6 separate regions of the Homo sapiens genome follow, and all the other regions are linked to region 2. The links come from fine-mapping of genetic effects on gene expression. A gene starts in region 2. Each other region holds a variant in brackets. All regions are shown on one strand. Distances are between the middles of the regions. Region 1 overlaps TRDMT1 (tRNA aspartic acid methyltransferase 1). Region 2 holds the start of TRDMT1 (tRNA aspartic acid methyltransferase 1). Region 3 overlaps TRDMT1 (tRNA aspartic acid methyltransferase 1). Region 4 has its middle 67 kb from the start of HACD1. Region 5 holds the start of CUBN (cubilin). Region 6 overlaps CUBN (cubilin).

Region 1 (5,090 bases), 66 kb before region 2:
GCTCATTCACTCAACTCTAGCTCAGATCAATAGGCAAGTCAGACTGTCTGCATATGTTGACTCTGTGAAAAGCAATATAAAAATCAATTGCTGTTTCCAAGGGATTGGCACTCATTCTGTTTACTTACTCTATTCAGAAATACTTCAGGAAAGATGAATTAAAGTAGTTTTAGAATCTATGACCTTCAGATCTATATGGTAGATAACCTCTCTTCTTCTCCTCTCCCAAGGTAAACATTCTATAGACCTGAAATTCTATCTTTCATTGACTAGTAAAACTCCTGTCTCTTCCCTAATCTAGAATGCATTCCCCTAATATTCTGCATGTGCCCTTTACATATTAGCCATCTATAAGATGATAGGAACACGAAATGTAGTAAATTGCAGATTCTTCCCTCTGAAGCCTCCAGTCTAGGGAAGACCACATGGTTGAAGGTTAAGAACACGGGCCTGAAGCTCATTTATGTGCGTTCAAAGTCTGACTCCATCACTTACTGACCATGGAACCTTGTTTTTTCATCAGCAGACAGATAATAACAGCACTGAAGTTATGTAAAATGTTTAGCACATTAGGTTACTGGCACAAAATAAGTGTTCATTAAATATAAGCTGTTATCAATATCATGTAAAGAAATATAATAATCCTCACCCTCCTGTATCCTCTCTTGGGTTTAGATTCCTTAAAAGAAAAAATGACAAAAAGAATTCACAGCTGTCTTTATAATCTTGGGTACAAGGAGAAGCAAGGGTGTCTGATCATTTCTCCTATAAAAGAGGATTTCAGAGCAGAGAGATGAATTGGGGACTTTGAGTGAGGAAGACGATTGCTGACCTGGAGTTAAAGGTGTGAGGCAAAGGTAACTGATGTCTAAGAACAAGGCAAGGTGACTCCAGGAAGCACAGAACAACTCCACATTGGTGGGTGGAGAGCAAGATTCCATTTAAATCCAAGAGTTTTGAAGAGCAGGCAATCCAAAAGAAACGGTATCATCCTTGAGTGGAACTGAGTAACCAGGGTGAGGAAGCTTTTATATGGGGTGCTAGCAATGGAGCCCTCGGACAGGGAGGATCTGCTCTGGGGGCTGCTCAGTGTTTGGAGGAGGGCACCTAGTTGGAGAGTTTACCTAAGGAACCCTTATGCACATTTGTACGCATTCATTAAAATAAAACCCTTAGGGCCCGGCGCGGTGGCTCAAACCTGTAATCCCAGCACTTTGGGAGGCCGAGGCGGGTGGATCACGAGGTCAGGAGATGGAGACCATCCTGGCTAACACGGTGAAACCCCGTCTGTACTAAAAATACAAAAAATCAGCTGGGCGTGGTGGTGGGCGCCTGTAGTACCAGCTACTCAGGAGGCTGAGGCAGGAGAATGGCTTGAACCCGGGAAGCGGAGCTTGCAGTGAGCTGAGATCATGCCACTGCCCTCCAGCCTGGGTGACAGAGTGAGACTCTGTCTCAAAAAATAAAAATAAAATAAAATAATAAAAAATAAATAAAACCCTTAGGTCAGAACACTGATAACATTAATGGCATGTTGTAGACTTTAAGTTTATAATGGTGTCTGCTGTACTGTTGATTTCCACTCATCAGCCTTTACTCTCTTTGACTTCTTCAGCAAGACACATGCAAATGTATTTTGCATTGTTGCTGATACCATACATGGTACATGGAATGAGGGTGGTATCCAAATGTTCAGTGTACTGCTCATCCATAATTCATGACCTGCTGACTTCTGCTCCGGTCCTGTCGCATGGTCTCACCTTTCTCTTTCTTCCTCATCCTGGCTCCACAGCCTTTCTCACTGAAGTCTTAGCTCCCTTCTCTCCCTCCCTCCCTCCTTCCAAAACCACCTGAAGGTGGTTGTAAGAATCAGAATGAACTACTCCTTTCTCCTGTTTTTTATGTTTTTCAAGATATCTCTGTGCAACCTTTTCTCCTTCTGTGACATTCACTTCTCCTCCCTTTATATTCTGAATGCTCAGTTCTTTGCTCCTCCTTTAAATAATTCCCACAGACTTCACAAATAAAAATTCCTGTGGTCATCAAAAACATACATGAAAGTTAATCCCAGTATACTAGAATTTCATATGAGGGGAATTTAAGGTTAAGAAGGGGTCATGGTAATCAGAATATGGCTAAGGACAAAAACAGAGGTTGGGGGAGGGGGAGGGAGAGAGAGAGAGAGAGAGAGAGAGAGAGACCTTTATTGGAGAACAATGGAGGAGAGAATTAACTCTGCCTGGAAGGGGAATGCAGGCTTCCCAGGAGTCCATCTGAGTAGTTCCCAGGTAGAATAGTAGAGTGAGGAGTTTCAGGCAGAGTAATGGTGTATACAAAGCTTTTCAGTAGAAAGTAGCTCAGCAGGGCTACAGCAGTGTCTATATGTGGGAGATGAAGTTTTAAAAATGAACAGGAAGCCAAATCAAGAAGGACTTTGAAATATCATTTTAATGAGCTTAGATTTTATTTACTTTTAATACTGCAGAATTATGAGAGTCTCTTAGGGAAGAGATTAACATGGTCATGTTTGCATTTTACAAGCAACCCTGTGGAGCCATGTCTGAGACCCAGAGTTGGTAAGGAGGTTAGAGTACATGTTTCCCCCCGCAGATGGAGTCTCACTCTGTCACCCAGGCTGGAGTGCAGTGGCGTGATCTCGGCTTACTGCAACCTCTGCCTCCTGGGTTCAGGCAATTCTCCTGCCTCCACCTCCTGAGTAGCTGGGATTGCAGGCACACACCACCACACCCGGCTAATTTTTGTATTATTATTAGAGACGGGGTTTCACCATGTTGGCCAGGGTGGTTTCGAACTCCTGACCTCATGATCGGCCCGCCTAGAGTACACTTAAAGAGATGTGACCTGGGGAGCCTTAAGGCAATGGACAGTCAGATGAGGAGACAGTGAGAAAGATATTCAGAAAACAGGCTACAGAAATACTTGGGTAGTTAATATTTCATTAGAACTATTAGAGGGGGAAGTTGGCCGGGTGCAGTGGCTCATGTCTGTAATCCTGACACTTTGGGAGGCCGAGGCAGGCAGATCACTTGAGGTCGGGAGTTCAAGA[T/C]CAGCCTGGCCAACATGGTGAAACCCTGTCTCTACTAAAAATACAAAAATTAGCTAGGCGTGGTGGCGGGCACCTGTAGTCCCAGCTACTCAGGAGGCTGAGGCAGGAGAATCACTTGAACCTGGGAGGCGGAAGCTGCAGTGAACCATGATTGCACTATGCACTACTGCACTCCAGCCTGGGCAACAGAGGGAGACTCTGTCTCAAAAAAAAAAAAAAAAAAAAAAGAACAGAGGTTTCTTGCTTGGAAAATTGGAATTGGAAGGAAAGAGATGTCATTAATTGAGTAAGAGAATAATCAGGGGAAGAAGATTTTGGAGGAAAGATAGTTCAGATTTGGATACATAGAGCTCTAAGGAATATCAACCACTCTGCTGCTTCACAGGCCTCACTCTCTGCAAGTGGTTTAACCATCTAAGATGGGAGTGGGGAAGATGTAGAGATGGCGTAGACTAGAACCTTGCTACTCCAAGTGTGGTCCACAGACCCAGCACAGGCGTCACTCAGGAGCGTGTCAGAAATGCAAAATCTCAGGTGCTACTGCCAACCTGCTGAATTAGAATCTTCATTTTACAAAGATCCTCCTCCCTGCCAATTATCTGTACACTCATTAAAGTGACCTAGGAGCACAAAGACACCTTCACTCATGACGAGAGTCAAGTGGTCCCTGCCATTGCGTCTGCATTTCCATTTCTACATTTTTCTTAGATTGATTCTCCAATTTTTAAATAATTTTCTATTTTCCACCTCTTTGTCTTGTTTTGTTATACTTTCTGAGAAAGTATTTATCTTTTAATTTTCTAGTAATTTGTTTTAAAATGTTGCTATCATTTTAAATTTGAAAACCCCTTTTTTGATTTTTGCTCTTGTTTCGTAGTTGTAACATCATCTAGTAATTTTTAGATAGTTGCTTTTTGATGTTTTCTTGTTTCCTGTATGGGCTCTGTTTTCTCTAAGTTGTTTTTCTCCCATTTGTTTGCTGGTTTAGGTCTTTCTAATTCATGCTAGAGGCTTTCCTCAAATACCTATGGATCCTTATATGTTCATTGACATTTAAAAATAACACATTACAGAATGGATGGTAGGCTCTGTGTGCATGGGTGGCGATTATAACTGGTAGGCTTTGCCACAGAGCAACCGAATGGCAAACTGACAATTTCACTGGGGAACCCCAAATGCCCATCTTTGAAGGCATCTTGCCCTGGAGACGTTCAGAAAAAAATTCTCCAGTCTTCTACCTGGACTAGTAGAGGTGACTGGAGATTTTATACTAAGTGTACAGACTTTACTTACCCTCTTATTTTCTGTATTTTTCTCCAAATTCTTGAAGAGCATCTCATTGCCACATTAGTATATTTCACTGCTGTTTTTTATACCAATGTTCACTTTTTATTCCTACCAGCTTTATCTAAATTCCATTGTTTTAGAGGCTTAATAAGCATTTAGTGAAGACATACGAAGTCCTTGACCATGGGGGAAATTTGAAAGAAGTAAATTTATTGACCTTCTCTGATTTACAATAAAGTCGTAATGTACAAATCTGGAGAGCCAGAGTTAGGCAACATTACAAAGACAAGTGTGACAAGATGGCACAGATACACAGTAGCATGCTGTTAAGTAAACAGCAGGTACCAAACTAGGAAAGATGTCCAAGGCCCAGTATGGGCACACTATAGAAAGTGGTTCCACTGGCCGGGCTCAGTGCCTCGTACCTGTAATCCCAGCACTTTGGGAGGCCAAGGCGGGCTGATCATTTGAGGTCAGGAATTTGAGACCAGCCAAAATGGTGAAACCCTGTCTCTACTAAAAATACAAAAAAATTAGCCGGGCATGGTGGCACACACCTGTAGTCCCAGCTACTCAGGAGGCGAGGCTGAGGCAGGAGAATCGCTTGAACCCAGGAGGTGGAGGTTGCAGCAAGCCGAGAGCCACTGCACTCCAGCCTGGGTGACAGAGCGAAACTCTGCCAAAAAAAAAAGAAAAAAAAAAAAAGGTTGTTCCACTTGTCCAGCAGGGTGACCTT
Region 2 (5,090 bases):
AAGGTTACCAGGGACTGGGGGGAAAGGGAATTTGGAGTTATTGTTTAACAGGTACAGAGCTCTGTTTGAGATGATTAAAAAGTTTTAGAAATGAACAAGGGTGATGGTTGCACAACATTGTGAATGTACTTAATGCCATTGAACTATACATTTAAAAATAGTTTAAATGATACATTTCATGTTGTGTTTTACCACAATAAAAAAATTCCATTATGAACCTTATCTAGAAATCAGTCAAAAATGAAGTTCAATATTATTCCTTTTGTGCTGCTTATTATATTATTTAATGTATAGATCCAAGGAAGTTAGTAGTTCTAACCAGAACAACGGCAACATAGCATAGTTAAAAGGTCAGGTAGGTAGACCTAGGTTAAAATACCAGTTCTACCGCTAACTAGTTTATTACATACTTAAAAAAGGACCTGAATTTAAAAGATCCCTAATAAACACTAAAGTTAGCTGCTGTTATTAGTCTTTATTATTATATTAAAAACCACCTGGAAAGGAGCAATGCATTTTATTACAGGTAAATTTTAAACTTTAGTACATCAAATAAGTGAACATGGGAAGGCAAACAAGTGTGGAAAAATATTTGCATCAATATGATTAAGAGTCTATATCCCTAATATGCAGATTTCCACCGAAAAGATGAGAGAGCAGAGAGGTACAGGGAGGCAGGAAAGTTGCTTTGGATCACAGGGTCAGCCAGGGAAGGCCAATATATGAACTAAGACATGAAATGTGAACCGAAGCTAGAGTGAAAAAGTCTGGGGTTAGGGAGCACTCTGGATGAGGCAACAGCAAAAGCAAAGGCCAGAACATCGAAGAACTTCGAGGGTTTGAGGAGTAGAGAGAAAGAAAAACAGTAAGCCTCGACAAGAAAGGCTGAGGAAAGAATTCAGGGAATCGTTTAATTAGAATTTCAGCTTTGGGTGTTGACGGTGAAGCGGGATGCTGAAGGGAGAGTGGCAGATAAAATTGAAGAGAAGACAGAAGCCAGAACTCACAAGCCTGTTAAGATGGGACTGTGATTACAATCTCAAAAGCAACCATTTAAGCAACGAAGTAACATGATCTGGTTTACTGTGCAAATGATCATGCTGCCTGCTAGAAGGAAAACGGAGTAGGGAGGCAGAATGGAAGTAAGGAGAGAAGCTGGGAAGCTATGTTAATAATTTAAATTACAGAACTTAATAGCTTGGATTCACAACAGTAGAACTGGCAATAGAAAAACGTGTACAAATTCACATTGCATTGGCTAATAGGAGAGAAAATATTTTACTCTTTCATTAATCCCAAAACTGTCACTTAAAATTACACAATTTCCCCTAACAAATTAGCAAGGATTAAAAATTGATAATACATATCCCTGATGAATATGTAGTTAAGGCACTCAAAAATCTCTGAAAAGCAATTTGCTATCCTCTCTCTCAAAAGCCTTAAAAATTCTGTTTTTCACTTAGTAACTAGCACACAGTTAAGTCTTACTGTTGAATTAATTCCAACAGTTAGTAAACATGCTTAAAGAGAAAATCGGCATTATGCTCAAGAATGTAACTGTAGCACACTGTACTTGCAAAAAAACTGAAGAATGATCTAAATATTCGACACTTAAGGAATGGCTGAATTACAGCTTATGATAAAGTACTAAGCAATTCATTAAGGAGTTTCAAGATATGGGAAAACGCGGACATTATATCACTTTAGAGAATTAACAAAGAGTAAATAGTACTAGAGTTTTGCTTTGATGCTGCTAAGTTTTAAAATGAGAAATAAAGATAGCCGGCAAACAAGTACTAAAAACTTAATGATCATTAACCTAGTCTAGAATTGAAACTCAATAAATCTGCTCAAAAAACTTATACGCTAAACCCATTAAATATTGTCTGTATCTTACAGTTACTCTTGTTACTCTTGGTCCTAAATAAGGAAGCAGGGAAGTTTCAGTTCGGTGGTTGTCTTAGTAATTTAAGAATAAACATGCACCTTCAAAGCCTGTTTGTCATTCTGTATCCCCAGCTCCTAGCACAAAATCTGGCACAGAATAGGAGCTCAATAAATAATTTTGAGTGAATATCACCAAAAGTAAAACTTTCAGTTCCAACTCAGCATGAAAGAAATCAAAAACCTCAAAATCAAAGACGTGCATAAAAGTAATAGTTTGCTTGATAATATCTCGTGATGTCGTTTTAAAGTAATAGTGATAATAATGTATAATATTTGGAGTGGTTACAATGTATCAGGCACTAACAAGCACTTGACAGACTTTAATCCTTATAATAATCATTCTCTTTTAAAACCAGGAAACAGGTTCATCACTGTTCACGAAGTAGCCCAACGTCACACTGCCACCAAGCTGGAACTCAGTTCTCTGGCATCTAAACGCAGAACTACAGAAGACACGTTTCTTTCCAACGATCAGACGTCCAAGTTCTTCAAGCTTCCTCTACCATCCTATTTAGCATTCGCAAACTTCTACCTTGAATTGTAGCTATTATCCCTTCCAAGATCCATCTCTCACCAGGGGAGCCCCTGACACTCCCTCCCTCCCCAGCTGGGAAGCCCCCCAGGATGAAGGACCGAGTCTCCATGCTTCTCGGTGGCTGCACACTTAGAATGGGGGCTTGGCACCAGGCGAGGGTCTCGCCCCTTTGATACCCTTTGAGGTTGATTTACTGCCTTGCGAATCCCGACTCCCAACTGGGCCCTTTGAGGCGCCATGTGCGGCCCCTCGAGCCAGACTCGGCGCCAGGAGAAGGGAGTCAGCGTCTGGAGGGGTGGACACGGCGGCGCGCAGGAGCTGTTTCCAGGACAACCGAGGGCCGCCCCACAGTGTCCGCCCCACAGTGTCCGCCCCTTGCGTCTCGCCGCTCCGCCCCTTCCCGGCGCGGGTGCTCCAACCAGCCCCCGTGAGCGAATAGAGAGAGGGGTGCTAGATGGACTCTCACCTCTCAGCGCGTGGTGCATGCCGCCCACGCCGCTGTATAGCTCCAGCACCCGCAGGGGCTCCATCCCCGCGCCTCAGCCGCCGCAGCCCCGGAGCTAGGCCTGCCGGTCCGTCGCTCCTCCTCCCTCCATCGCGCCGCTCCCTCAGCCTCTGGTTCCGCGGCGTTTCAGTTCCCCCGTCTCCTACCGCTCCAGGCTCAGGGCTTCAGAGGGCCTCGCGGCCTGGGGATTGGCAAGGGTCTAGAGGGGAACAAAGGACGGAAAACAATAAGGCTTCCCGAATGAATGGCAGCCACTCTGTAGCCTGATTTACGCTCCATTTCCTTCTTTGGTGTCAGGGGCCTTGATTGGAAAAGAAATCCAGAGTTCAGTAAAGGGGAGAAAACTGCCTTGGTTTCCAAGTGAATTAACACTGGTTAGAAGCCAGAAAAAAATCATTTTTCAGACAAGCTGCTTTTCTGTCACTTAGAAGCCTGAACATTCAAACATTCTTTCCACAGTGTGCCTTGTTTCCTGCCTGCCCTGGGTCAATAGAGAGAAATTAGACCAGCCTCTCCCCTAGAGAAGATTCCAGAATTATAAGTAAGGACACAAGTCCACTCGCAGCAGAGAAAGCCCTGTGTGCGTGCTGATAATACAGAGGATGTTTGTTGTGTCTATTAGTGGGGTTAATTATGTTTTAGCTTGGAAATTACACCTACATAGAATACACAGTGAATATCATGTAGGATTATTTATGGGTCTTTAAGTGCTATGGCCTTGATTCCTCAGGATGATCCAGTAACCAACTGTTAGAGGCTCATGTTGACGAAAAAAGCCAAACTCCGTAAAATGTTTGAAGAGGTTTATTCTGAGCACAAGGTGAGGACCGTGACCCATGACACAACCCCACAGGGTCCTGACAACATGTACCCAAGGTGGTTGGGCTACAGCTTGGGATTATATGGTTTTAGGGAGACATAAGGACATTAACTGGTATATGGAAGGTGTACTTAGTTTGGTCCATAAAGATGGGACAACTCAAAAAGGGGAAGGATTCCAGGTTACAGGTGGATTCAAAGATTTTCTGATTGGCAGTTGGTTGAAAGAGTTAAGTTGTGACCTAAAGACCTGGAATCAATAGAAAGGAATGTGTCTGGGTTAAGATAAGGTGGAGACCAAGGTTCTTATTATGTAGACGAAGTCTCATACGTAACAGGCTTCAGAGAGAATAATTGGCAAATGTCTCTTATCATGTGTAAAAAGATGCCAGACTCTTAGTTAAATATCTCTTGGATCAGGAAAAGACCTGGAAAGGGAAAGGGAGTCTCTATAGAATGTAGATTTTCCCCACAAGAGATGGCTGTGTAGGGCCATTTCAAAAAGTGTCAAAGAAATTTATTTTAGGGTAAAATGCTTTGATTTAGGGCCTGCTATCTTTCATGTGATGCTATACTAGAGTCATGTTGGAATTTTGGTATCTTATTGCTAAGAAGAGTCTGTTATGTCGGTATGAAGATCTCTTGTTTTAATAATAATACTGGTCAGTTGTGCCTGAACTCCAAAGAGAGGAAAGTATAATGAGGCATGTCTGACTTCCCTTTCCCAGCATGGCCTGAACTAGTTTTTCAAGTTTCTTTGGAATCCGCTTGGTGGAGGTGTTCAATCAGTCAGTTGGGGGGAGCTTAGAAATTTTGTGGGGGGAGCGGTGTTTACAGTCAATTATAAATAAAAATAATGTACCCATATGGAGGATAGAAAATGTTCCCGTTGTGAAGTGTTTTTCTCTTTGTTCCCAACACTGCCACAGGTTTTTGTTAGGGGGAACTTGGGGGTACCACTTGTAATAACAATAACTGATTTGTTAGAAATGTTGCATGCCTGCTAATGTAATGCTGTTAACAAATAAAAGTATAACCACTGCATCCAAATTATAACATTCACTGGTTCCTTTTGATGTGGTCTATGAAATTAACTTTTTAAATTGTACATGTGCATTGGCCACGTGCTTTGCTTTTTGTTAGTCACTTTCAGATAAGAAGAGGTGTATGGTAGAAAGATACCAGATAACTCAGCTTTAGCCCTGGCGTTGCCAGTTAACTGATTGTGTGACTTTGAGATGACCCTGGTTTCCTCATCTGTAAGATAAAGCAGAAGGGAACAGA
Region 3 (5,090 bases), 44 kb before region 2:
TGTAGCTTCCATATCTGAAAAATCAACACAACAATTATGCAGCACCTGATGTATGTGTTAATGCTAAATTTCTTAAATATTTATTGAATGAATTAATCAATCTACACAGTTACATCCTTCTGAAATATCTTGAATAATGTCACATAAATATCCTTTGTAGGTAAAAAATTACTAGGTAAAAGACATAATATAGTTTCATTTAAACGTCTCATCAATGGGCCGGGCACAGTGGCTAATGTCTATAATCCCAGCACTTTGGGAGGCCCAGGCGGGTGGATCACCTGAGGTCAGAGGAGTTCGAGGTCAGCCTGGCCAACATGGTGAAATCCTGTCTCTACTAAAAATATTTAAAAAATGAGCCAGGCGTGGTGGTGCGTGCCTACCTCAGGAGGCTGAGGTAGGAGAATCTCTTGAACCTGGGAGGCGGAGGTTGCAGTGAGCCAAGATCACGCCACTGCACTCCAGCCTGGGCAACAGAGTGAGACTCCATCTCAAAAAAATGATAATAAATAATAAATGTCTCAGAAATGAAACATGGCACAGTTTTTTGAGTTGAGTAAACACCACTGAATGATGAAATATAAATTGTCATTTCTTTTTATTAATTGTCTTGTCTTGAATGTTCATCACTGGAAAGGATGCACTTTATATTCAAATATAATTCAATATTGGCTCCCTTGCCACATTAACCTAAATGTTGTACAGGTGAAAAGAAATTGCTGCCATTTTTATCAGGCCTGAACCATCATTTCCTCTCAGGAACCCACCGCCCTGCTCTCTAACACCACAGCAAACACAGTGCCACTGATCCTATGTCTGCTTGTCATTTAACACAGTATGATTTTATGATCACTTTCATACAACAATCAGACCATTATATAAAAAACTCCATAGAAAGTATAAAACACTTCAGAAATGCAAGTCATTAGCAGTATTTCTCTCTCTAAGATTATTGCCAAGCTGGCTGTTCAACATATTAGCATTATTTCTTTTTCACAAAGAAAACAGTTTAAAATAAGAATTAGAGGGAAAAAGTCAAACCAGGAAAAAAATAATTTTTTTCAAACTGTCTTTTTCATATATATTACACATATAAATACGTGTGTATATACACACAGTATCTATACCAAAATAAATTTTACCATCAGGCTCCTTTTATGCCATCTTTATAATTAGAAAAGAATTTCAAGGTTGTTTTTTATTACAAAATTGCTAAGTCTTATTTTATGAGAGTCCTAAACAGAACCTATTGAACTTGGTAATTGACAACAGCCCAGTGAAGTCTTTCAAGATAATGGAAAGCAATAAACTCTTTCCCCTGAAGTACAAGGGCAGAGTATAATAAATTCAGAATGACTCTGGTATGGTTCTACTGGGGTACAGTGTATCATACAAGATATTAATAGCTAGCTAGAAGGTAAGAACAGAAAGCCTGAATTGACAAATCATACAACTACCTACCAAATGAGGTTGAGTAGCATTCAGAAAGCACAGACAGAGATCCTTGGCAAAATTTTTCTTTTTTTTTTTTTGAGACAGAGTCTCACTCTGTCGCCCAGGCTGGAGTGCAGGGATATGATCTCGGCTCACTGCAACCTCTGCCCCCCAGATTCAAGCGATTCTCCTGCCTCAGTCTCCCAAGTAGCTGGGAATGCAGGCACCCACCACCATGCCTGGTCAATTTTTGTAGTCTTCGTACAGACAGGGTTTCACCATGTTGGCCAGGCTAGTCTCAAACTCCTGACCTCAGGTGATCTACCTGCCTCAGCCTCCCAAAGTGTTGGGATTACAGGCATGAGCCAGCGTGCCCGGCCAAAATTTTTCTTAAAAAGGTCTAATTTTCCCCTTTCTAGGTTTAAAAAAATTAGTGAGAACTGTATTAAATGTTCAAGTAATAACCCAAAGGAAGCCCTCTAAATGTTCATGAATAGGTAACCAGTAAAGTAAATTATATAATATACCTACACCATGAAAACAGAAAGTCCTTTAAGTACTGATATGCGATAATATTCTATTTATATTGTGCAGTGAAAAAAGGGGCATATATATAATATCCTGCCATTTACTTATAAAGGGGGATAAAATATACATGGATACTTAAATACACTTTCAGATACAATACCTCTGGAAGATTATACAGTAAACTGATATCATTGGTCACATGTGGGGAGAAGAACTGAATGGTCAAGAGACAGAAATGGAAGGGAGTCTTACAATCTTAGTTATCTTTTGAATTGGAAACCTTGGGCATATATTACTTATATAAAAACCTGAATAAAATTTAAATTTAAAAGTTACCCTAGTATTCTCCAGATGACTCAATATTACATCTTTAGTTTAAAATTTAATTTCTTATTATACATTGATCATAAGAGTGAACACTTGAGGTATGATGTGCCACAGAAGTGCTAAAGAAT[T/C]AGCAAGTAATAGTCTACAGAAACCATGTCTCCACTACGGGTATTTAAGCTCCTATGAAGGTCACCAAACAAATGACATTGTCTTTTATGAGCACTTTTGTGGGTGGTGCACATAATGTTCTGCCAAACGGAATTTTTACTTGTGTTCTACTGGAACATGAAGTAGGCAATTAAGGGAAAATACCTCATTCTAGCAAAAACATTTTATAAAATGCTCCTTGTTTTTAGAAGAACTTAAAGAAACAATAGCTTTAAAAAACCTGGTTATTTTGGATACAGGATCAATAGATCTTTAAAACCTACCCTTTGGTAAAGCACACGGACCTTCTACAAGTGGGCTGAACAATGTCTAACAGAAGAGCATATCGCAGCAATGACTTTGGTGGTAAAAGATACTGGTTCACGTCAGTGTCATCTTCAAGAAAATCTTTTAGCATTTTCACAGAGAGATCACTATCTTGTTGATTTTTCCTGTGAATTTCTTCTGCAGTTTCAAGCTTAAAAAGAATGGCATCTTTTCCAGAACACTGTATGCTGCCATCAAAGCTAATATTTGGTTCAACGTTCTTTTCTTGAATTTTATTTTCTACATCCATTGCATATTTTTGTGGATGTACAGATTCAATTTTGGGGAACTCCATCAGTACCTGGCATTACATAAAAATACACAAATTGTCAAAAGTTGCATTAAAAATAAGAGAAATTAACAATGTCCAGTCAACATTACGAAAACAACCTCATTAGCCTTTATGGGGTTGCCATTAAAAGATAGAAATTGTGGTTTACTTGTATTTGTACAAGTTATTACACGTTATTAATCATATAGCTATATTGTCATCAGGCTGCAGATGATTTATTTCATGGATTAGTGTTTACAGTATTTATTAATAAAAACATTCAATAAACTAACAGAAAGTATATACTGAATATAGATAAATCATATTTGTATCTTATTTGGAAAAGAAGTTTAGAAAGCAACACTAACATTTCCAGAAAACATGTTTTGAATCAAGTTTTGCCATACTCCTTCATTAAAAAGGAAAAACCAAAACATAGCTATGATCTAAAGGAAAACTAGCAATTAAAAAAAGAAAAGCGGTTTTCACTGTGAAAGGTTATTTCTACTCATGAGTCCTATGGGAAAAACTTGTTTCTGCAAAACATACAACCATGTATAAAGTCCTATTTTGTAAAAGGAAAACCATTCCAGGAATTTTTAATGATGAAGTCCTTGAAGTCAATGTATAAAGTTACTGTTAACTTAATACAATGTGTAAGGTATATTAACTTTACATTGGAATTGGCTACTATGGAAAGGGAGCAATATTAGTATCATATTATAAAGGGATTGAGGTGACACTACCAATCCCTTATTAGTAGACATGACTTTTGTGTCCTTACCTATGAAAGTTAGGGAGAGTTTCGCCGAAATGCTGAAACTCAGTTATCCATCCCCGTTTTTTGACCTAAGCATGTAAAACTGCTCACATAATTAGAGATTCTTTCTGTAGCAATTAAGCATTTTATTCTAGCTTGTACTAATCATTACTATATTTTAATCAATTAAGCTAAATAGCATTGGCTTTAAAGAAAATGCAACCCATGTATTAAAATATTTGTAAGCCACTTTTAAGATAAAATATTATCAAAAGTAACCAATGGCTTCTATGGGAAGGATAAAATGATAAATGCAAAATAGTCAACGGTCAAAAGGGAAATTATGGGGGAAGGAGGAAGATAACAATACTAATGATAAGTTTTTTAACTCATTTGTTTTCTAATGAGAAAAAGAAACATTGTTTTGTTTTGTTTTTGTTTTGTTTTAAAACAATAAAAGTGGCAAGATGAAAACAGCCTTGAAGATGGACCTAGGGCATGGTCTATACTTTAGATTCTATAGTACACAGAGACAGCTACACAAAGTAGTTCTTGAAAATAAATTAGCAGACTAATATATATTTATAATAAATAAGCCATAATATTCATAATAAAATTCCAATAATAATACCTGACCAGGGGCTTGAAAGGGTAATGGCTCTGACTGAAGCTTTGCAATAAGAAAATATCGTAGCCTTGAATTTGGAATGCCAAGCTGTAAGCAAAGCAAAGCAGTTAGTTACTCTAAAAAATTAAAGAGAGCGGTACCAACTTTAGCACCAAGTTAAACAGCAACAACAAAAAACTCAAACGAGCCTACATTTAGCTTCTACCACAGCAAAATTTGCTACGGATTTGTAGAAGACTCCATTGTAGTACATTTTAAACTATTAAGTTGCTACTTTGTACTTTTATTTGAATGAGTTAAAGATTGAAACTGACAAATATATCTACAAGTCACTTCCATTTTATATTTCCCAGCTAAGACGTAGTATAGATATTTTTACATTCATTATTGATAATATATTAATAATTTAAAAATTCAAATATAGCTATTCTTGGCTATTTATTACCTCATTTTGTTAAAAAAGGATGATACACTATGTTTTACAAGCTAAAAGGCAATAAATATGAAATAAATTTTAAGAGATCAAATATGTTGCCAATTTCCACAGCTTGTATCTTGAATTTTTGAAATGGGTTTTCTATTAATTTCTGGGCAAAGAACAATATAATATGGCTAAAGATGACAAGAAACTAACAAGAACAATAACAAAAAGCTGACAGCAACACTTG
Region 4 (5,090 bases), 350 kb after region 2:
GGGGTCTTGATCCAGACCCCAAGAGAGGGTTCTTTGATCTGTCACAGGAAGGAATTCAAGGCAAGTCACAGAGCATAGTGAAAGAAGCGAGTTTATTAGAAACTTACAGAGAAAGGCATCCTCAGAAAGGAAGTAGAGGAAAGCCCTGGCTTTAAGTCTTTCTTAAACACTGAGCTGTGTCCACGCGCAGGTGAGCAGGCATCATGACAAATGTGTTACTCTGTTGATTTAAAGAGGACTAGCCTTGGCTGGGCGCGGTGGCTCACACCTGTAATCCCAGCACTTTGGGAGGCCGAGGCGGGTGGATCACCTCAGATCAGGAATTCAAGACCAGCCTGGCCAACATGGTGAAACCCCGTCTCTACTAAAAATACAAAAATTAGCCAGGCATGGTAGTGCACACCTGTAATCCCAGCTACTCAGGAGGCTGAGGCAGGAGAATTGCTTGAACCCGGGAGGCAGAAGTTGCAGTGAGCCAAGATTGCACCATTCCACTCCAGCCTGGGTGACAAAAGTGAAACTCTGTCTCAAAAAAGAAAAAGAAAATAAAAACTAGCCTTGACAGTCTAGTGTGTGAGTACACCAAAGCATACCAATTATTACCTAGAAAACATATATTCTTATGGGTTTTGGGGCATCTGGATTTTCTGATGCTGTAGGAGTTTGTCCTTGCAGGGATTACCAAGCTGCTTTCTTAGCTGTAAGCATCTTGGAACCATGGGTTGCGCCTGTCAAGAAATGTGCTTTGCTAGTTTAAAGATGGAGGTCTTCTTAAAATGGTGTCACCCTGGCTTTCCTTGGCTCCTGCTTCCCTAACATACCTATAAACCAAACTGTTACTTTTTTTGCAGGTTTTTATACATTGAATTTTCTAGGACTGCAATGACCAAAATTTGTTTTGGAACTTTGCCAAGAGTGGTTCACCATTTGGGGAAATCACAGGACTGATTGCAGCACCAATGCAACATACTTGAGTCTGGCTGTACCTGCAGCGGTCACATTCATGGTGGGCCTACAGGGAGGGGCAGCCATCCAACAGCATTATCTCTGCCAGTGTAGTCGTGTCCAAATATTTACATAGGAAAGGCTTATTGTTTCAGTTATTCTCTTATTATTTCTTTTGCTCTTTGGATCTGATGTAGAGAAACTATATTTAAACTGGGAGTCATTTCAGATAGGATATGATCACTAATTGAAATCCTTGAAAAATTAGAAGATTACTTGGAAAGGTGAGTCCAAAGCCAGCCGAGGTTAGAGAAGGAACAGCTGGAGATCTTTCAGAAGCCCAGGGTCTTCTTTGACCAGCTATTTACTATGCATTTTCCTCATTCCTGAATTCTTGGTGTTGATGAAGTTCTTCAAGGCTAAGAAGGGAAAAGGGGTCTCTTGAAGGCAGTTATGGCTTTATAAGATAATTGCAGTCAGGAGTATTGAGAGAGAGAGGAACAGAGAGAGAGGAAAGAGTTAAGAGAAAAAGATTTATGGTAAAGAATTGGCTCATGAGATTGCGGTACTGGGAGGTCTGAAATCTGCAGGGCAGGCCGGCAGGCTGGAAGATTGATGTTGCAGCTGGAGTCCAAGGGCAGCCTGGAGGCAGAATTCCTCCCCTTTCCAAGACCTCAGTCTTTTTCTCTTAAGGCCTTCCAGTGATTGGATGAGTCCCATGCACATTATAGAGGATAATCTGCTTTACTCAAAGTGGACCGATTTAAATGTGAATCATATCTAAAAACACAGCTCCACAGCAACATCTAGACTGGTGTTTGATGAAACATCTGGGTACCACAGCTTAACCAAGTTGACACAAAAATTAACCATCGCAATAACCAAACAGAGCTTGGAGTGAAGGTGTGAAGGTAGATATGGGTCCGTGGAGGTGGGAACACCTCTCCCTCTGAGCTGGAGACAGCAAGCCTAGAAAGTCTCAGTGAGCAGAGGAAAGTGGCCTCTTCAAACTTGACTGGAGGCTAAGATTCAGCCAGGATTGGCATAGAGACCCTATTTCCAGTTTTCCTTGGAGCACGGCAGAGTGCCCCAAAGCCAGGTGTCCAGCTCCCCAATCTTCATCTCCTGGTGTTTTGATCAAGGTGTTGGGGACGGTTAGTGGCCAGTTGCTCCCAGCAGGCACAGATTCCAGAGAAGGCACAGTCCTGTTCTTTCTACCTGAGACACAGCCCTTGGATTTAGTGGAAGAGGATTAAGCCCTAGTCTTGGGAGATTGCAAACTCTCCTAGGAGGCACAAGGCAGCAGAGATCCCAGTGGAGGATGAAAGCTCCCCAAGAGGGTCCCAGAGGACTCACACTCACCCCAGAGAAGACACACAGGTCAGGGAGAAAAGGTTAGATTCTGAATGGAAAAAAAAAAAAGGAGACTGAGACCTTCTCAAAGGAGTCCCCTATACTGTCTTTGTTTTTGTTTTTTTTGAGATGGAGTCTTGCTCTGTCACCCAGGCTGGAGTGCAGTGGCACAATCTCTGCTCACTGCAACCTCCGCCTCCCAGGCTCAAGTGATTCTCCTGCCTCAGCCTCCCGAGTAGCTGGGACTACAGGCATGTGCCACCACACCTGGCTAATTTTTGTATTTTTAGTAGAGACGGAGTTTCACCATATTGGCCAGGCTGGTCTCAAACTCCTGAACCTATGCTGCACCCACCTCGGCCTCCCAAAGTGCTGGGATTACAGGCATAAGCCACTGCGCCCAGCCAAGGAGTCAGCAACACTTTAACCATATCACATAACATGGTATAAAAGGTCTTGGTATTGGTTTATTTCTTAGGAGAAAAGTAGAATGGAAGAGAAGAGAATTATTGAGCATTGACTGTCTACCAGTTGCTATGTTAAGCACTGTACGTGTATTATTTCAATTCAATCTTTAATTCTACCCTGTTAGGTAAGTAGGATTATTAATCCAGCTTATGAAGAAATTAAGCTTAAATAATTTGGCCAAGGTCACAGAACAGGTAAGTGGAGGGGCTCGAACTCAGATGCAGAATATCTCATTACGAAGTTTATGTTTCTGATGTGGTACCAGGCAAGTCCCAAAACTGGGGCTTAGCCTGGGAGGATTCTTGGCTTTGCCCAGGAAAAAAATTCAAGGATGAGCCAGCGGTGTTAGGCAGCAACTTTTCTTGAAGCGGCAGTGTACAGGAA[C/G]AGCAGAGGGACCGCTCTTTGCAGAACAGGACTACCCCCCAGGCAGTGTGCCCAGAGTAGCAGCTCAAAGGTAGTTCTGCAGTCCTATTTATACTCACTTTTAATTACATTCAAATTAAGGGGCAGCTTATGCAGAAATTTCTGGGAAAAGGGTGGTAACAGGCTGGGTGCTGTGGCTCACACCTGTAATCCCAGCAGTGTGGGAGGCCGAGGTGGCTGGATCACCTTAGGTCAGGAGGTCGAGACCAGCCTGACCAATATGGTGAAACCCCGTCTCTACTAAATATACAACAATTAGCCAGGCATAGTGGTGTGCACTGTAGTCCCAACTACTTGGGAGGCTGAGACAGGAGAATGCTTGAACCCAGGAAGTGGAGGTTGCAGTGAGCCAAGATCGCACCACTGCCCTCCAGCCTGAGAGACAAAGCAAGACTCCGTCTTAAAAAAAAAAAAAAAAAAAAAAAAAAAGGTAACTTCTGGGTCCTCAGGTCGTTGCCATAGAAAGGGGTAACTTTCAGGTGTTGCCATGACAATGGTAAACTGACATGGCCCACTGGTGGGTGTGTCTTATGGAAAGCTGCTTCCCCCTCCACTCTATTTTAGCTAATCCTCAATTTGGTCCGGTGTCCGAGTCCTACCTCCTACCTCACTTCTAAGCCCTATCTTAAGCTTCTTTCCAGTAAAAGGAAGATGAGGCTTGTGGTCTTATGTTGTACATTGGTTTTCGTCCATGGTTACTGATTCATAACTCCCATAGCCCTTGTTGCAAGACTTTTGTTACGAAGTTGGATGTGTTAGGCCTCAGGCGCGGACCTCCAGACACAGAATCTCTCTCCTGCCCCCTTTTCACCCGCCCAAGGCAGGACTCTAAGAGTCCCCTGCCCTTCTGACTGTGGGTCTTAAGACCCTCCCATGAGAAGGTCCCACCCAATACCCTGGGGGAAGGAACACTGATGGCATGAAACTTTCATAAAAACCCAAGAGGACAAGGTTCAGGGAATTTCTGGATAGCTAAACGTGTGGAGGTTCCTGGAGAATGGTGGGCCCAGGGAGGGCGTGGAAGCTCTGCACCCCTTGCCCCGTATTTCACCCTAGGCATCTCTTCATCTGCATCCTTCACAGCAGCCTTTAGGATAAATCAGTAAATGCTAGTGTTTCCCTGAATTCTGTGAGCCGCTCCAGCACATCAGCTGAGTTGAAACAGATCACGGGAACCCAAATTGAAGCCGGTCGGTCAGAAGTTCTGGAGGCCCAGACCTGCAACTAGAGAGTGTGTTTGGGGGAGGGGTAGTGTGGGGGACTGAGCCTTCAACTCACTGGATCTGACACTATCTCCAGGTAGATAGTGTCAAAACTGGATTAAAGGATGCCCAGATGATGTCTACTGCTTGGTATGTGGAGGGAAAAAGCATTCCGTCACAGAAATCTTCTGTGTTGAAGATTGTTGTGGTGTGAGGGTGGAGGAAAAGCACGGTGAGAGAGAGTTTTCCCTACACGAGGCCTTCCCAGGAGACTGCACATGGAGGGAAGGATCCTGTGCAGAATTCTGGGGAGGAGGGTAGGCTGGATCAACAACAAAAGCAGTAGAGAGACTGAGAAGGGAAAAAGAAGAGATTGATAAAGGAGGGGATTTTTAGTGCCTGCCGCAAAAGGAAAATCTGGGGAAGTGAGAGGTAGCTAAGTAGAATGTTTAGGAATTCTTCTGTGTGCGATGCTGAATGAAACTACTAAAAAGGAAACTTACAAGAAAAACCTATGCTATTCTCAAGACTTTTGGAGTCAGACTGCAGCTACCATTGCCTTTCTGTTCCTTCTTCCTTTTTATGAAATACAGGCCTACATCACCTGGGGCCAAAATGAGGGTTTCTTTCATTTTGTTTCAGATTTTCTAAGATTTTGTTTTCCTCTTCTCAGTGTTTTTCAAACAAATCCCTTCCTTT
Region 5 (5,088 bases), 72 kb before region 2:
TCCGAGCTTAGCGTCAGAGAGGATGCTTGCTTTCCGAGCCCCAGTCCCTGATGGGAGAATCAGCAAGTTGGGAGATCACTAGCTGACCAAGCACAGCACACACAGCTAAAGGGTGATGGTAAAGGATGTGGGCTGTGGGCTGCAAACTCAGGGTCAGAAGCCCTAACAGGCTCGGAGACCTCAGCCTTGTCATTTCATCTGTCTTAGACTCAGCTCTGCATCTGCATCCTGGGAAGCACATGCTGGGATGAGAATTAAATTATGGGAAAAAGCAAGTTTTTAATATTAATCATCCATTCACCTTCAAAATAAGAATAGCAGCTCTATTAATGATTCTAGTATGTTTTCTGTGAAAGATTTGGGTATGTAGTAGCATGAGACCTACCTGCTGCAAGCCTTGGAATTTTCTCTCAAGATCCACCAGCTGGCAATAGGGAAGAAAAAGCTTCAGTTAGCTGGTTCAAAGGCATTGCACATGTGATGTTATATCCTTGACATATTGTCCTAATGCCCTCTGCTAGGGACACACTTTGTTCATTCCTCCTTTTATTCCCTTTTTCCTCTTCATTCCTCTCCCCTCAGGATTTTCTTCCTTCCTATTCCCTCCTATCACATAGATTTCTGGGGTTTTTTTAAGTTTTTTTTTAAAGTACAACCCACTGATAAGTTGACCGATTGCTTCTCTGTAGGCAGTGACTATGGAAATGTTCATAAATGTCAGTGATGCATCCACTTCCCCAATAAGAAGATTGCTCTCAGAACTTCAGCAAGGCTTCTTTTCTTTCTTTCTTCCTTTCTTTCTTTCTCTCTCTCTCTTTCTTTCACTCTGTCTTTCTTTCTCTCTCTCTCTCTGTCTCTCTCTCTCTTTCTGTCTCTCTCTCTCTCTTTCTTTTTTTTTTTTTTTTTTTCTGGCAAGGTCCCACTCTGTTGCCTGGGCTGGAGCACAGTGGCATGATCATAGCTCACTGCAGTCTCAACCTCCCTGGCTCAAGCCATCCTCCCACTTCAGCCTCCCAAGTAGCTGTGAGTACAGGCTCATGCCACCATGCCCAGCTATTTTTTTTTTTTTTTTTTTTTTTGGTAGAGACGGAGTCTCACTATGTGGCCCAGGCTGGTCTCAAACTCCTAGGCTCAAGCGACCCTCCCTCTGTGGCCTCCCAAACTGCTGGGATTACAGGCAGTTTTTTATATTAATCATCCATTCACTTGCAGTGAGCCACTGCTCCCAGCCCAAGGCCTACTTCTGCAACAAGTGCTTGCACAGCATTTCCTGCCTTCTGTCCATCACTTCTACAGCCTCCATTACAGCTGTGTCATTTAACCAAACAGTGAGTAGTTACATGCTAAATCTCTAAAGAGCACACAAAGTTGGTATATCCCCTACAAAACGGTTACTTATACAATAGAACTAGGGAGAACTCATCGGTTCTTATGACGTAGATGTCAGACTTACCTTGGAATTAAGCTGATAGATTTGACTAGATATATTTTGAGGCAGACCAATTGCACTCCCTTTTAACTCTATAATATCTTCTTTGTTTTTCTGGATCTAATTTTAGAAAAAGAAGAAGAAATGAAGAGCACTAGTGAAAATATCATATTTATCTTTACAGTAACATAATTAAAAACTTGAGTAGTATTCTACTTTAAGCACTAAGATCTTGCCTATTATTATAAAAACCAAAACAACACCATGCGTAATAAACACTGGGCTAAAATAGCCACAGCATAATTCCACTTATCCTTTTCAGTAACAATAGATCAAGGTATTTTCCATTTGTATGTTTTCCTATAATACCAGTTTAGGGTGCTTATTAAGAAACCTGGCTTGGAAGCAGACTGTTTAGGTTTTAAGTCCTGGCTCAGCTATTTATTGCTGTCCTGGGCAAGTTACCTAACTGCTTCAGGGTTTCTTTACCTCTTGTAAAACTAGGGTGACAATAAAGGCCACCTCATAGGACAGCTGTGAAGGTCAAATGAGATAACATCCATACGGTGCTAAGCACAGTGGATGGCCCACAGTAAGCTCTGAATAATGCTGACTTCTAACATTATGACTGAAATATGCAGTGATTATTGGGAAATGAAAACACCCAGTAAGGCAGGAGAATAACTGGCCAATTCTGTTCTGTGGCAAAAGCAAACTGGTCACATGTCCACATATCCTTGGTCCCCTACTTCCTCGCATCCCCTGTGGAGGAGTTTCAGTTCCACCCTCCGTGCCTTCTCTGGACTAGGGTGCATTGTCTGGCACAATGAGCTTCTATCTTTTAGCATACTCCCTCTACCCACTATTAACCCCAGGCCATCGTCCTTTACAAGAACATGTCTGATGCCCAATTATGTTCTCTATGCTAAAGATTCAAGGTACACTAGGAAGGGGGAGGGAGGCTGAAGACAGGTTGATTAATGAATACAATATATAGTTAGATAGAAGAAATAAGACCTAGTGTTTGATAGACCAGTAGGGTGACTATAGTTAACATTAATCTATTGTACATTTCAAAATAACTAGAAGAGAACAATTCATATGTTCTTAGCATGAAGAAAAGGTAAATATTTAAGGTGATGGATATCCCAATTACCCTGATTTGAACTTTACACATTATAGGAATGTATCAAATTATGTATTAATAAAAAATAATAATTAAAAAAGATTCAAGGTACAGATTAATCTAGACTTGTTCAATTAAGTCACCGTATATGGATATACAAAATGACTTCAATATATTTCCAGTGTATTACCTGATGTAAACACTCACTGAGATCTTCATCATTTAATTTAATTTTTCCCAGGGATCCGGTTCTAAACTCAATGTTTTGAGCAGACCCCGTAAGAAACACCAAATTTCCTCTCTCTGTAGCCATTCGAGGCCTATATAATTCAAAC[G/C]AGAGAATGCATCAGTAATTAGCAAGTACAATTTTTAAACCAAAATAACAAAGTTTCTTACTGAATAACTACAGGCCAAATACATCTTCACTTTTTGATCATCTCAACCCAACTGCCCCTGCTCATCTGCCACTTTTTTCTCTGCACATTTCTCAGAGATACCTCCTGGCAATTGCAAACAGATTATTTGCAAAATGACAGATAATAATTTGTGCATAGGAAAGTAATTTCATACCTCAGTCTAAATGTTTTTCCCTGTTTGCTTCTCAACATAATTTTCCTCAAGAAAAATTGCACCTTTGTTTATCTGGCTATTTGGGAAAACTGGTGAGGAATTAGCCTAGTCCCTGAGCAGGAATGACCCATGTGTTTACTTACTGTTGGAGATTGATGCTTCTTTTTTGTCTCTGCAGCTCAAGTTCTCCAGCTTCGCCATTTACTTCAGCAAATATTAATAAGGTAAGCAAACTCCAAAGAAAAGGTAAAGACATGTTCATCATCAACCTCCCAGGTTGGCAGGTAAGAGTGAGGCCACTCCAACCAACTGAGCATGGGATTTTGGAGAACAGCAAACCAGGCAGGTGTACTTTGAACCATGGAATATCCTGTAACTGTTGAGTTTTTTCTTCTTTGCCCTAGAAGGCTATGTTATTTTTTCTTCCAGAGGGATGTAAATGATCTTAGATCTTCAGTACTCTTCAACTTGTGAGAGGTCAAAATCTACCTTAAGTGATGCGCAACTTAATCATTATCTATTTGACCTTTGAAACAGTAACAAGCAGCTTTGAAAACATCCACTTAAACAATCTTTGCTTAAGAAGTAACTAGGTTTCAACAAAAGTAAACTGGTCATTATCTACACCTTTCTCTGTTCCCCTCCTTCCTCACCTCCCTTGCAGAGGAGTTCCACCTTTACCCAGCGCTAGGAAAACTAGATATCCACATGCAAAAGAAGTTGGAGGCTTACCTCATACCATATGCAAAAATTAACTCAAAAAAGTTCAAAGATCTAAATCTAAGAGCTAAAACTATAAAATTAACTCACAATGGTTCAAAAAATCTGAAACTATAACATAAAACTCAGAAGAATAGGACAAAAATTCATGACCTTGGATTTTGGATTTGGCAATGATTTCTTGAGTATGATACCAAAAGCATGGGCAAAAAAAGAAAAACACACAGACAACCAAAAGATATAAATTGGAATACATCAAAATTAAAAACGTTTGTGCATCAAAAAATACATCAACAGAGTGAAAAAGCAACTCCCAGAATGGAAGAAAATATTTGCAAATCATATATATATGAAAATGGGTTAATATCCAGAATGTACAAAGAATTTGTACTTTTTACTTTTTATCATCCCTGTGGGACCTATGGACGGCTGTGGAATCCATTCCCACTTTCCACACTGCGCTATACACCCTTCCAGCTGGATATATGGTTTGAGGACATGGAGCACTGATGTCCCCACTCACTCTGTGCTGGGACTACAGAAACCACTGAGAGTGATGAAAATATTCTACATTTCGATTGTAAAATCAACTATTGATGCACTCAGACTTTCCATGAGCACACAGACAAAACTGAATTTGAGGGAGAGCTGTAAAAATTTCACTTCTAAGAAAAATCTCTAGGTAATTACCATTGCATTGGTTAATACCCATGCAGGCTCTTTCAGGACAAGCCTGTTTGTGTTTTACTTATTTTGTGTCTTACTTATGTAGGCTCTTTGAGGAGAGGATCATTATGTACCATAGCTTATAATTCTTTACTTATGCCGGGCGCGGTGGCTCACGCCTGTAATCCCAGCACTTTGGGAGGCCGAGGCGGGCGGATCACGAGGTCAGGAGATCGAGAACATCCTGGCTAACGTGGTGAAACCCCGTCTCTACTACAAATACAAAAAATTAGCCGGGCTTAGTGGCGGGCGCCTGTAGTCCCAGCTACTCGGGAGGCTGAGGCAGGAGAATGGCGTGAACCCGGGAGGCGGAGCTTGCAGTGAGCTGAGATCATGCCACTGCACTCCAGCCTGGGGGACAGAGCGAGATGCCGTCTCAAAAACAAAACAAAACAAAAAAAAACTTTACTTGTGATACTCAAATAGTCACTGCTTTTAAAAATTTTTTTTAAACCTTCCCAATTTCTTCTATATGTCTCTTGTATCTGCTTCTTTCACTCAACATAATGCTTTTGTA
Region 6 (5,000 bases), 370 kb before region 2:
CATCTCCCAAGTTCAAGTGATTCTCCAGTCTCAGCCTCCCGAGTAGCTGGGATTACAGGCATGTGCCACTACACCCAGTTAATTTTTGTATTTTTAGTGGAGATGGGGTTTCACCCTGTGGGCCACACTGGTCTGGAACTCCTGACCTCAGGTGATCCACCCACCTTGGTCTCCCAGGGATTATAGGTGTGAGCCACAGCACCTAGCTTAATCTTGGTGTTTTATTTGCTCGTTGATAAAATTTGAGCATTGGAGGTCACCTTTAAGCTTCCTTTGGGTGCCAAGATTCCATTACCCACGATTATCTTTATAGAACGCTTTTCTTAAGATATTTAAAGTGAGTTCTGTTTATCTTTCTTATTTTGAAGGTATTTTGGTATTTTGGGATATTTTATAAAGGTATTCCTCCTCTCTTGAATTAAATGTATTGACATGACTTAAATTTTCTTTAGTTGTTTGATAAACAGCCAGCCAAAAATGTGAGAAGATACTTACTACCCTAAAAAAAGCAATTTCTCTCCAGAACCGCCAAGAAATGTCAGGGCCTGCGAGAAGCACAACTACTCATATATATGCCAGAATGTGTTCATAAGTTGGATTTTTGGTAAAAATTTTTCTTTAAATTCTCAAAGAACTTCCTTGATGGTCAAGCCAAAAGTCAAAAAGTCTAACAAAATTTAATTTACCAAGGAATTTTTGAATCTTCCTACCTTACCTTATATATGTTTCATATATGAATATATATTCTTTTATAAACAGAAATAATGAATAAATGTAAAATTTAAAGTAATCTGGCCGGGCGCGGTGGCTCATGCCTGTAATCCCAGCACTTTGGGAGGTTGGATCACCTGAGTTCAGGAGTTTGAGACCAGCCTGGCCAATATGGGGAAACGCTCTGTCTACTAAAAATACAAAAATCGGCTGGGCATGGTGGCGCATGCCTGTAATCTCAGCTACTTGGGAAGCTGAGGTAGGAGAATCACTTGAACCTGGGAGGTGGAGGTTGCAGTGAGCTAAGATCACGCCACTACACTCCAGGCTGGATGACACAGCGAGATTCCATTTCAAAAAAAAAAAAGTAATCTGTACTTTCAATGTTAAAATCTCTATTCTTAACATAAACTAATCAGGTACACAGGTAGCTAAAAATATAAAGTTACTTTGCCTTTTACTATTAGACACCTCATGTTTTTCTCACAGTGCTTTCCTGTACAAAGTGCAAATGTCTTACCAGAGGGTGATGAAGTCCAGATGATTTCATATCCACGATCAGAAGTTACACTATCACTCTTAAATCGTAGGTATAGTTCATTATTTTGAGAGAAGACAGGGTTTGGCAGCAGAGTTCCACAGTACTTGCCCAGTAATGGTGAATTGCTGTTACTTCCATTTCTCACCTTTAGGAAGGAGTCATTCATTATTAAACTTACACTTTCTTCTCTAAGGTATATACATTAAAATGGAGACAATTTGAATGATGACATTGGTCGGAAAAGCTTTGTCTTTTTATACAGTTAAGAATGAAGCGTTTTCTGAAAATACATGCAGAAGTCACCTTCACTTGCAAAGGGGAAAAATGTTCCACGTGTAGATCAAAAAACATTTGCATTTGGATTCAGAAATACCTGTTAACCTACAGCAATTAAAACACCAGGCAGCTTTTTTATACCGTAGTTTGTGCTGTGATCCTGCAGCCTTTGCTTTTGGGGAAACATTCTGGAGAATGTAGGTAAAGTGAATTTTTAAAAGGTGGAGATGGGCGGGGGCAATGTTGCCTGCTCTGCTTCCAGTCAACTATTACACCTTTCTCATTGTGTGTGTGTTTGTGTATGTGTGTGTGTGCACGTGTTTCCCATTGAAAATTACTTGGCTGTAAAGAGGCTATGAAAAAATACAATGCAAAGTATAATAAAGTTCAGAACGAAAGGAATTTCTGTATGGGCAAAGGACAGAATTATAAATCTATACAATGTCTGTTGTTAAATGTGTTTTACAAACACATTCCGAGGCCTTGTTGCTTTTTTGTTTCAACTCATTTTTGAGTAGACACATATAAAAACAGGAGATGAGCCTGTGTTTTATGGGGAGAGAGAACTACACTGTGAACTGAACCACTTTCTGTCCCCCAGCCTGGCTGCTACCCTGCATTCACAACCAGCCCTGCTTCCAGGAGGGCTCTCGACGCTTCTTACGGAAACGTTACGCGGGCAATGTATGTTGGAACCAGCCTGACATGCGGAAATGCTGATTTTACTGATCTATGTATTCAAAATATTGGAAGTTCCTCTGTTCCCTATATAATTCCATGGTTTAAACTTTGGTTAATTGCTGGTATCTTAAGTCACAAAGTTAAGACATCTTGCTGGGCTGTGTTGATCAGGTGAGATTCCTTTTAGGTCGATGTAGTAGCCCATGGGAGAGAATAATGCCTTTCTAGTGCTTTGGGGATTATTCTGCTAAGTGTTTAAACAAAGTAACCTTGCCATGACAGAGTAGCCAGTCATCCACTAGTAGATGGGAGGGCTGCCATAGCCAGCACCACGCTTTTGAGTTTGGGCGTTTTTCCCTCAGGGTCCTCTTTCAAAATGCCGTTGCTCTGAGAGGAGCAGCAGGATACTAATTTCCACTGACACTGCTGACAACTTGTCTTATTCACTTTCCTCTCCTAGGAAGAATGGGGCCACCTAGAGCAGTGGGCATCTCTGGGACATCAGAGGATCTTGAAAGGGGAGGTGAAGGCATGAAAACAGATTCCAAGCATGGTCTAGAGCTCGGCCCTCGCTTGGTAGTAACACAGTCAGAATTCTCAGTCAGACATTTCCGTTCCCACCGCAGTTCACAAGAACGGAATGCTGAGGCTTCCTGGTACAGCTGCCAAGAAACTATGCCCACAGCCTTCCCACTGAGAGC[C/T]AGATGGAGCTACATTTTACAGGCCTAAGCGGTGGTTTCCTTTCTTTGCTTATGGGACAGGAAGTTTCAGATCCATTCTGTGGAGTAATGAAGGACAGCTAGGAGGAGGAATTCTCACTCTCCACGGCTGGAAAGCAAGGCTTTGCTTCCCAGCATCTATCAGGCAAATGGCAAACGTTGACTCTGATCAATAATGGTCCATTCAAGCTGGAGTGAGTTAAGAGTTAGTTGCACTGTGACTCCAACCTAACGGGATTATTCCATCTTTCCTCCAGATCCCACTCTCCTCATTCTTTCTGCTTTACACTTCATATAAATATTTGGATCTCCATGGTGGGGGAGGTACACAGGTCCAAGTTGAATAACCTGACCGGCACAAAGAATAACTGTATTTGCCTCTTCATTTCCTCCCTGCTATATACATCTTTCGGTCTCCTGTCGTGGCGAGTATTCCTTTAGAAAAGGCATGAGCTTCCTCCGAGTGTTATTTATGGCACTATATGTTAAGGTTATTGATTAATAAAGGATTTAGATGAATTCCAAAGGGGAGAGCTTTCCAGGATGATAAAACTCCGCATCAGGAATCATGTTGAAGCTAAACCCATATGCAAAGACCATATGCCAGAACACCCTTCCTGGCCAGGCTGGGCAGAAGGTGCCAGCAGCCCTAGGAGCCAAATCGGATGAGGGGGGTTGCAGGGCAGAAAAGAAAGAAGAAGAAAGAAAAGAAAGAAAGAAAGCCCTTGGTGCTAAGAAGCAGAAGATGTTTTGTTGGGAACAAAGGCTGAAGCTACCAAGAAACTATCAGCTGAGCAGAGGCCCGCTAGAAAGAATCGTCCCACAGAATGAAAGGAGCCCGCTGCCTACACCGGTACATTTCTTTATGCTACAAAGGTCAAATCCTCTTGGGCAGCTTATTTTGAATGAAGACCTGATTAAAGAGGCAGTGAGAAAAAAAATAAAATAAAAAATACAACTCCAGATCAGGGGTAGAGGAACAAGCACACTTTTTGGAAACTTTACTGAAGACTCTTGTGTGGTACAAAGCCAGTTTAGAGACGGTCAGGATGAGGTTTAGATTTAAACTCCACTCACAGAGGAACTCAGCATCTTTATGCTCTTGGTTTTTAGGTTCCACCTAAGTATATTTCCTAAGGATGAATGCATTTTCGACAGAGCTTGCAAAGCTCAAACCCCGTGAGCTCTGGGGTTTTTCTGGCAAAACACAGGGGCTGAGTTCCACACACTGGGTCCACATCACATGAGGCTTATTCAGACTATCTCCTGCCTATGAGCGATGATGTTCATGTTCCATCTCATATGCCCAATGCAGCGATGGGGCAGAAAGAGCACAGAGGGAGCTCATCGGGGGCACTGGAGGACCCCAAAGTTTCAGGCCCACGAGGCGCATGGTTCTGCCTGCTCCAGGCACAAGGGGGCTTCTCTCTCAGTGTGTCCTGGGGTGGGAGTGGGGGGTGGGTGTGTGGACGATGGGCAAACAGTGAAGTCATTTCTGTGCCCAAATTCAAGCTCTGGAGTTGTGGTGAAGAAAGGACAGACCACACCCCCCTGAGACCAGGGAGCATTTATTCAAGGAAACACTTGTCTTTAGAGGATGTTGACGATGCCCCAAACTTACTGTAGCTGTCAGGAAAATTAGGTGAGCTATTTAGTATCATTGAGCTTCATTTTACAGAACCAGCATGTTGTCCTTAGACTTCCCTCTGATCCTTTTAGGTCTCAACTTACATATTGCCCTCTTGAGCCTTCTAGTTCCCAGACTGAGTTAGGAACCCCAACCCATGCTGGACTCAGTTAGTCCTTTCCACATTGTGCTGTAATTGGCTATACCCCATCTGTCCTTCCTGCCAGACTAGGAGTCTCCTGCGGGCCCTAAGGTTCCCAATTTCCGGTGTTTGGACTGGTGCTCTGTAGATGTTTAGGGAATGAAAGGGTAATGAATAAATTAATGAAACAAATAAGAATCATATAATATTAGCAGCACTAGATAAAAGGTGTAAAATCTTAAGTGATCCACCATCTTTTAAATAATTCATTCAAACGATATTCAAATGCATATCACCTCCAAG

What was found. PIP is the estimated chance that this variant, and not a neighbour inherited with it, causes the effect.
Region 1: its variant is fine-mapped to the expression of TRDMT1 in whole blood (TOPMed, PIP above 0.99).
Region 3: its variant is fine-mapped to the expression of TRDMT1 in whole blood (TOPMed, PIP above 0.99).
Region 4: its variant is fine-mapped to the expression of TRDMT1 in cerebellar hemisphere (GTEx, PIP 0.97).
Region 5: its variant is fine-mapped to the expression of TRDMT1 in whole blood (TOPMed, PIP above 0.99).
Region 6: its variant is fine-mapped to the expression of TRDMT1 in cerebellar hemisphere (GTEx, PIP 0.91).

The regions. Positions count from the first base shown.
Region 1 is chr10:17,132,793-17,137,882 of GRCh38, forward strand. It overlaps TRDMT1 (tRNA aspartic acid methyltransferase 1), which reads right to left. Exons shown (of 11, transcript NM_004412.7): 11 at 4,544-5,090. Among named protein-coding and RNA genes, the nearest start is that of CUBN, 5.5 kb to the left of the region's middle. The variant T/C (reference allele first, on the strand shown) is at 3,068.
Region 2 is chr10:17,198,623-17,203,712 of GRCh38, forward strand. It overlaps TRDMT1 (tRNA aspartic acid methyltransferase 1), which reads right to left and starts at 3,050. Exons shown (of 11, transcript NM_004412.7): 1 at 2,949-3,050. The coding sequence starts at 3,012. RefSeq lists a silencer at 2,688-2,747.
Region 3 is chr10:17,154,721-17,159,810 of GRCh38, forward strand. TRDMT1 (tRNA aspartic acid methyltransferase 1) reads right to left here. Exons shown (of 11, transcript NM_004412.7): 7 at 4,426-4,509; 8 at 2,721-3,064; 9 at 1-14. Among named protein-coding and RNA genes, the nearest start is that of CUBN, 27 kb to the left of the region's middle. The variant T/C (reference allele first, on the strand shown) is at 2,418.
Region 4 is chr10:17,547,407-17,552,496 of GRCh38, forward strand. No RefSeq gene overlaps it. Among named protein-coding and RNA genes, the nearest start is that of HACD1, 67 kb to the right of the region's middle. The variant C/G (reference allele first, on the strand shown) is at 3,151.
Region 5 is chr10:17,126,376-17,131,463 of GRCh38, forward strand. It overlaps CUBN (cubilin), which reads right to left and starts at 3,436. Exons shown (of 67, transcript NM_001081.4): 1 at 3,269-3,436; 2 at 2,746-2,875; 3 at 1,454-1,549; 4 at 386-424. The coding sequence starts at 3,390. The variant G/C (reference allele first, on the strand shown) is at 2,891.
Region 6 is chr10:16,830,021-16,835,020 of GRCh38, forward strand. CUBN (cubilin) reads right to left here. Exons shown (of 67, transcript NM_001081.4): 64 at 4,994-5,000; 65 at 1,232-1,397. Among named protein-coding and RNA genes, the nearest start is that of RSU1, 15 kb to the left of the region's middle. The variant C/T (reference allele first, on the strand shown) is at 2,911.